Homo sapiens: one gene and its partner. The protein of the gene in region 2 interacts with the protein of the main gene of each other region in a pairwise test. Each region holds a gene or a part of one and is shown on either strand. Other genes may lie near its edges.

Region 1 (2,504 bases), on a different chromosome or scaffold from region 2:
CTGTGCTTATTTGCATGGACTTTGCATATCATTTGCATAGACACCTCTGATCCCCTTCAGTGGGAACCGTAGTGTCAGTGCTCATTTATGTGGCATTTGCTTAGGATTCCAGATCTCCATCCACTTTTCTCCTGGGGGCTGGGCTGGGGGTTAGGGCTGGGACTGTGCCCCCACACTGCGCCTCAGCTTCCCATCTCTGCCCGCTTGCTTCCCCTGCCCCCAACCCCTGCCTCCTCTATCCCCCAGGCTCTCCAACTCTGCAGCAGTGGCAGCAGCAGTCAAAACAAACACGGGGGGCGGTGGGTGGGATGGTGGAGCAGCCCGGGGGCTGACCCAGGCTGGAGGACAGGGCCAGCCACCCTCCCACGGCCTGGGAGGAAGAGAGGCCTTCTGGGACTGCCCAGGCTATGGGGACAAAGGCCTTCACCAGCAAGGGCCACAGTTGGAACAGTCCCCTGGGTGTCAGAAGGTGGGCTAGGGCCTCCTGCAGGGTTGTGGGGTGGAACAGGGTCTCCTCTCCCCAGCCAGAAACCCCAAAGTCTGGGAGCTGCACCTTCCGAGTGCAGGCCATGTGAGCCCTGCCTCTTTAAGGAGCCGCAGGACATGAAAGATGACCTTGTGACACTCATGCACAGCAGCCATTGCACGTGCATCAGCTCCCATCAGCCTCATTCCGTGGCAGGTGATGTGTCCCCATTGGTTAGGTGAGGAGGGTGAGGCTCAGAGAGCTAAGGACACTTGTTTGGGGCCACACAGCCGGGGTAGATCTGAGCCCGTCCTCTCTACTCCTGTGCTGTAGCACCTTCACTGGCCCATCCCTCCCCTCTAGTGCTGTCCTGGTACCCGTCCCAGCCTGTCCCCATTCTCATGGCCCTTTGGTCACTGCCGGGTGGAATAGCACTGGCTTCAGCAGGCGTGTCATGTAAGCTTGTGCAGGTTATAAACTGAACCATGACCTTTATGGCGCATGCAGGGGGCAACCTGCATAATTATCAATGGCGACTTTCCGTGTCCTTCTGATACAGTTGATCAGACCCCTGCCCACCGCCCAGGCCAGGCCTGTGGTCATCAATGCCCCAGTTCACATCCACCTGCTTCTCTTCCAGGCTTTGCTGTTCCCCAGCAGCCTGCAGAGGCCCCACAGACAGCTTGAGGCCCCTCCTTCTGCTGCCTGGCCAAGCCCCACACCCGCAGACCCTCCTTCCCATCCTCTGAAATGGGACCCTGTGTCTGTCACCAGCCCACCCTCTGTGTTCATGAACCTGGGCTGGAGCTTGGGGACCCCTCCCTGCCCCTGGCTTCCTCTTCCATGTTCTGCCCTTTCCCACATGTTGGAGGCTTTTCCAACGTCTTCAGGGACAGGCGGTAGGAACCCCGGCCCTCGCTCTGCAGCTGGTGCAAAAGCTGTGGCTGCCAGGTCTGGGCCACATGGCAGCCCAGGGGGCAGGAGAAGCCCGGGAGAGGCCCACTGGCTACCAGACTCAGCCCTGAGCAGGGAACAGGGCCCAGCTTCCACCGGCAGGGAGTTGTGAGCGCCTTCCCAACAATGTGCCCCTCACCCCTTGATGCCCATGCTAATGGTAGCCACCCTGGTTCTTGTTGACTTGAGGGACCTGGCTGTCTTCCCTGTTCTTCATCCTTTCTTCTCAGTCCCTACCTACTGTTTGTAACCACAAGTGTCTCTGTGTGTGGGTGGGTGAGGGCCCCTCTGCCCAGTGGTGTGTCTCCTCTCCCTCCCTCCCTCTTCTGCCAGTGGCCTGGGGGTGTCCAGGCTCCCATCCGTGGCCCAGCCCCTCTCCCCTCTGTCTTGATCCCCCCCTCCCTGCCCCTGGCTTCCTCTTCCATGTTCTGCCCTTTCCCACACCTTTGTTCCTCAATAGCTGGGGGCTGGGACTGAGGCCTCCTGCAGGTACCTGCCCCCCTTCACACAGCACCTCTCAATCTCCTATTGCTTGTCAGCCTGTGTGCGTGTGGTGCAGGAAATAAAGGATCTATACCCTCCTGGCCCAGCCTCCAGCTGTCTCTCTAGGGAGTGTGTGTGTGCACTTGGCAGGGCGAAGTTGTAGAGAAAGGGTGGATGCTAATATTGAAGTATGTGCCGAGGACTCCTATTAAATACGCCGTTTAATCATAGCAGCAGCTCCTAGAGGGCGGTGGGTGATGTCATAAGTGTCTGTTGGATGGAGAAACTCAGGCCAGAGTAGGTTAAGTGATGCCCTCACCAGCAGATCATGGCTAGTGTGGAGCTGGGATTTGAGCTCATGCTTCCCTGATCCTTTCACCCCAGAGACTGACTCAGTGGCCTGGCTGTGAAAGATAGGATGGGAGAGAGTCACCCACTGTCTTAGGGTGAAGTCCCCAGAGCAGACCTGGAACAGGGTTTAGGAACAAGTATAGTCGCCCTCCGTATCCTCAGGCTCTGCATCCGTGGAGTCAACTAACCACAGATAGAAAATATTTGGGGGAGGCTGGGTGCAGTGGCTCATGCCTGTAATCCTAGCACT
Region 2 (5,681 bases):
GTGTGCCTCAAACATAAAAGGATAATTATTACCATACGGCCATTGATTTCTCCTGGTTCTGTTGGGTAGAATCACACAGAAATAGTTTAAATAAGCACAAGCTATTCAATATCTGAAGTTAAGATACTACTTCCTAAGTTCTTCACAATTCTGGGTTAAAAATATTTTCTTCAAAAATGTTATCATGGCTAGTTTTGAGTTTCCCCACTATCTCTGGTCATTTTCCCCACTGTGTGTGTGTTCTTCCTGTAGGACAGCACTCAAGAATGAAGTCAATATTCTCACAGTGATGTTGATTCTAATATAAACTTTATTTTTACCACATGTTATTGACCATGACATAGTGTTACTGTTTTTAATTTTCAAAATTCCTTAGAATTTTAACATAAAATGCAGCCATATCTGCATTTTATGCGCATATGTAAATCACTATTACCCAATGATCATTTACTTACTGAGATGTTTTCTTCAGACCTGACAAGTTTTTTCTTCAGTTTTTTCTTTTCACGCATTAGATCACTGTGGGTCTTAAGCAATTCTTCAAAGCGAACTTTGGTTTTTACTTTTGCTTCACTCTCAGCTACAAAAGATACAGCCATGTGATTTTGTAAATGACTCTATCATAACACACAACCTACACTACTAGGATGTTAAGAAATAAGTTCTTGTAAATATCGGCATGAGTTCTCTAGCTACATTAGAAAAACTCACCTATCTTTCCTTCTTAAAATATTTTTTATTTTGACTTTAGTGACACAACATTCACCTGTATCCCTCTGACCTTTTTGGCCACTCACTCTAAAAGTCTCCTTTGCTAAGTTAACTTTTTATTTCTGATAAACAGTAGCATCTACCACTGTTAGTTACGTGTTATGTGGCTTTAGACAAGTTACTCAAGATCTCTAAACTTCATTTTCCTTATCTGTAAAATCACAATTATCTTATGCCAAAGATCATTTTGCATGAAAAATGGCTAAGGTGTGCCTAGCCTGTAATCAGTATTCCACAAATATTAACAGGTTTTTCCTTTAAAACATGAAGAAGATAATGCTTAAGCCCCTGAAAATTTCCCAATACATTTAGGATAAAATAAGTCTTTTATATGCCCTACAGGGCTCCATACCTCCTGATCTATCTCCAGGGCTTCAAATCAAGACAAATATCCCCTTAGATGCCTATGTTCTAGCTATAATACCCTTCCTTTAGCTCCTCCGTCACAGCAAGCTCCTTCCCACATGAAGCTGTTTCTGAGGCAAGCTTCCTCTAATTCCTCACCTGGCTGGTGTTAACCTGTCTGTTTAAATGCTGCCTGTAAATAAAACACCTCCTGACAAACTCATCTAATTTTCCCTTTTCTCACATAGCAGGTTGTTCTCTTCCTTCACAGCACTCAACCCAAATGGAAATTATATAATTATTTTTATATCTATATAAAGAAACATATTTTCTGTTTCCCCCATAACTACATCCCCAGCTACTATTATGAGGTCTGACATAGTGTACATAGTCATTATGTTTTAAATTAATAAATGCTGAATGAATGGGTGCTCTAGAGCAAGTGTCGGCAAACTATGGCCTGCAGGCTAGTCACTTGTTTTTGTAAAGATTTATTGAAATCAGACATACCCATTTGATTAAGAATTGTTATAACTGCTTTCATGCTTTAAAAGAGACAGAGAGACAGAGTTGAGCAGTTATAGCAGAGACTAAGCCTAAAATATTTACTAGCTAGCCCTTTTAGAAAAGATTGCCAATGCTTGTGGTGGAGTAAAACATTCAATTTTGATGATAAAGAATAAAAACTAACCCTATGTTGTAATCATTATTTACCTTGTCCATCTGAGTCCCAAACTACCATCCATTAAATACATACTAACCTTAATCACAATATTAAATAGAAAACTGAATACAAAACCAATAAGTATCTCTAAATGTAGTATATTTGGTCAATGACATCTACTGTATTCATTAATCTGTTCAAGAATCCCTTAAAATAAACCAAACTTAAAAGTAAATGTATAAAATATAAATTTTATACATAAATTTCATAGAAGTCTTACCTGTAGGCATCTCTCAGCTTTATGCAGAGGACTGAGAATGCAAAGCATTGACTCAATCAGGATCCTATCGAAACAAAGGAGATGTATTTGTAATATGGAACTTCCAAATAAAAATTATAAAACGTTCTTCACACAAGATCATGCCATTGTATGTCCACTACTTCATTAAGTTTATACCAATAAAGCTATGTTCCCTTAACCCAATCTTATGCAAATGACTTGGGTACATTTGAATCAGTTTAGGGCTCTAAAATCAAGGGAAACAAACTAGATCATATCTGAATAAAGTATTTATATATTTGAAACAAAAAAAACATTTTGAAGGCAGTGCACATCTAATGTGGTATGTTAATAAACTTTTTAAAGTGTTTTAATACATTAATGAACATTTCAACGCACTTTTAAGAAACCAAACTCCATCTCAGGATTGACTTTCCTAAGAGCATTCAATATTACATTAAAGCATGCTTGTGGGTAGCACACTCACAGTGAATTTAAATACCTCTGTGTCTGCCACTGAAAATTCTGCTACAATAGAGAAGGATAGTACAAATATTTGCACCATCTTTCTTTAATAAAACCTGGATGTGTATTACTGTGTCAGAACTACTCAAAACCATGGTTCAACTCAGTATGTATATTACTAAATTGCCCATTTTATTAAAAAAATCGGTGTATGTCTAAAATGAACATATTCTCACATTAGAACATTTAGAATGTAATATGCATGTTTTTGAGACTAAAACTGAAGAGTGTTAAAAAAAAAGCTGGTTCAGGAATTATTGATTTGTTTGTTTTTGAGATGGAGTCTCCCTTTGTCGAGTGCAGTGGTGTGATCTCGGCTCACTGCAACCTCCGCCTCCCAGGTTCAAGCGATTCTCCTGCCTCAGCCTCCCGAGTGGCTGGGATTACAGGTGTGCGCCACCACACCCAGCTAATTTTTGTATTTTTAGTAGAGACAGGGTTTCATCATGTTGGCCAGGCTGGTCTTGAACTCCTGACCTCATATGATCTGCCCGACTCAGCCTCCCAAAGTGTTGGGATTACAGGCGTGAGCCACCACACTGGGCCCAAGGCATTATTGGTTAATGCTCCAATTCCCTGGACATCCACATTCATGTTCCTCTTGCAGAAATGTCTAAGAAATTCTAAAAAGAAAGGAATGATTATGTAAACATACCTAACTATGTCAGTTAACTTAGGCAACAACTACGTGGCACCCAGTCAAAACAGACATCACTAAATCCATGGAGTAAAAATTCCTATACTTTAGTGATAGGAGCCTGTATTTACTCCTTCTAGCAGTTATAAATTTAATAAATCTAGTCTTCTACTTTCTAGTCTATATTAAATTAGAAAAGAGAAGCTGCAAAGGCAAGTGCAATGACAGCATGAGTAATTGAAACCTGAGAGCACGGAAGTAGAAAAATCATAAAACAAATAAAAATTTAATATTTATACTACTCGATGGTCATCTAATAGGCCAGGAAAAAGCTGACCTATATTATGACTATGATTCATCAAAAAAAAGCCTGCTGGGCGCCGTGGCTCATGTCTGTAATCCCAATACTTGGGAAGGATAAGGCGGGTGGATCACTTGAGGTCAGGAGTTTGTGTCCTGTCTGGCCAACATGGTAAAACCCCATCTCTACCAAAAATACAAAACTTAGTCAGGCGTGGTGGTGGGTGCCTGTAATCCCAGCTACTGGGGAGGCTGAGGCAGGAAAATCGCTTGAACCTGAAATGTGGAGGTTGCAGGGAGCCAAGACTGCACCAGTGCGCTCCAGGTGATGGAGTGAGGTAATATTTTAGAAAGATTAAATAACTAATGAAGAGGCAGGAGAAAGAATCGGAGATAATTCCCATGTTTCTAGAACTAGAATAAGTAGATTAGTAGTATCATTACACTGTAATATAATGCAGTACAGGGCAGTAGTTTAAAATCCATGTCCTAGAATTAGTTTCCATAGTCACTTGCGTGACTTTTGTTTCCTCATCTATAAAAACACCCTACCAGTGCCGACTCAAAGGGTTGTTGTAAGGGTTAAATGATTTAGAACAGTACCGTAGACAGAAGAAGCAACAATAAATGTTAGCTATAACTGTAACAGGTTGTTAGGGTGCAGTCACTGAGCTTAGTATGGGTCATGTTGAGTTGGGTATCTGAAGGGCACTGAGCAGCTACAAGCATCAGCTCCATTTTCAGATCCTTGGATCCAAATACCAGTTCTATCTGCCAGCAGATTCACCTCTATGGATATCAACTTCCTAATCTTTCACAATAATAAGAGTAAATCACTCACAGTGTTTTTATAAAGATTAAATGAGAATATGCAAATAAAATACTAGGCACAATGCCTAGCACATGGCAAGCCCTTCAAAAACAACAACTGTTATTACTGTCACGTGTGTGTGTGTTTACGTATATAATCATATTATGTTTGTTAGGCAATCTACTAATCCAGCAGGGAGACAATAGGCTGAAGATTTGGGAGTTATTTATAAATATGATAGTTCCAAGAAAATAAAAAGCCAATGAGAATCCTGTGAGCCTACAATATAAAGTAAAATCAGGGAGATAGGTGAAAAACTGGGAGATAGAAGCATTACAGAAGCAAACCCAAGTTTTAAAGGAGATGTTGCCTATATACTGTGTGGCATCAAAAGGGGCTGGAGGTTTTGAAGAAAGTCCACTGAATCTGCAAGTAGGAAGTCACGTGTGTCAAAGCTGTTTATAGAGGGGCAGAAACTTAGCAGGCTGGGGCTAAGGAATGAATGGAAGGTGACACCTGTAGAAGGGACATGTAGACAATTCTTTACAGAATTCTTCCAACTGTCTTCCCATCACCCCCAAAGGCAGTGACATGAGACAGTAACTCTGAGGGACAAAAACACTGTGGAAGGATTATGCTTTTTGTTTTAAGATTGTTTCCACGCCGCTATCACCTTTCCCTTAAAAAAAAAATCATCATCTACACAGCAACTAGTGTAATTTTCTAAAATTCAAATGTGATGGTGTCGTTTCTTCGCTTAAAATTCTTCACTAGCTCCCAATCGCACATTGAAAAAAATATCAAGTCCTTACCAGTGAGGTCCAAGGCCATTTATGAAATGTCCCCTTCACACATCCACTGTGTTCCAGACATGTGAAACTACCTGCAGGCCTTCACGTGTGCCAAGTTCTCTCTTGCTTTTGTATCATTACACACATATCCCCTCCCCTGAAAAATGTGCTTCCTCCTTTGTCTCTCTAACAAACTCCTCACTATCCTTTAAAGGCAAATGATATCTTCTCTAGAGAGCATTCTCACCTTGAAGGGCATTTAAGAACTTCTCTTCTGTGCTTCCAGGGTGCCTTAATCTTTGTAGCTCCCTCTACCTCAACCTTGAATTTTCACCCTGGTAAAATGTTCTGTAACTCCCACCAAACTGCTAGCTTTGGAGGACCAAGCCAATGCTCTCTTATAGTTATGTATCTGCCACTATGAAAGAAAAGAGAGGAGAAGAAGAGAGAAGCGAAGTGAAGAGAAGCAAAAGCAAAGCGAGTAAAAAAGACTCAGGCTTGAGCTCTAGTGTCACCACTTACTGATGTGTGGCCTTGGGCAAGCTACTTAATTTCTA

Evidence for each region. Proteins that work in one complex are often made in the same cells at the same time.
Region 1: the proteins of AHI1 (region 2) and HAP1 interact in binary tests that used the Homo sapiens proteins (3 or more experiments, as listed by UniProt).

The regions. Positions count from the first base shown.
Region 1 is NC_000017.11:41,722,140-41,724,643, reverse strand, and holds the end of HAP1 (huntingtin-associated protein 1), read left to right. Parts: 3' UTR 1-2,004; downstream 2,005-2,504. UniProt on the Homo sapiens protein: Originally identified as neuronal protein that specifically associates with HTT/huntingtin and the binding is enhanced by an expanded polyglutamine repeat within HTT possibly affecting HAP1 interaction properties.
Region 2 is NC_000006.12:135,490,168-135,495,848, forward strand, and holds part of AHI1 (jouberin), read right to left. Parts: 5' UTR 5,647-5,681; intron 5,543-5,646; exon of another isoform or gene 5,372-5,542; intron 2,125-5,371; 5' UTR 2,071-2,124; coding exon 2,061-2,070; intron 581-2,060; coding exon 456-580; intron 1-455. UniProt on the Homo sapiens protein: Involved in vesicle trafficking and required for ciliogenesis, formation of primary non-motile cilium, and recruitment of RAB8A to the basal body of primary cilium.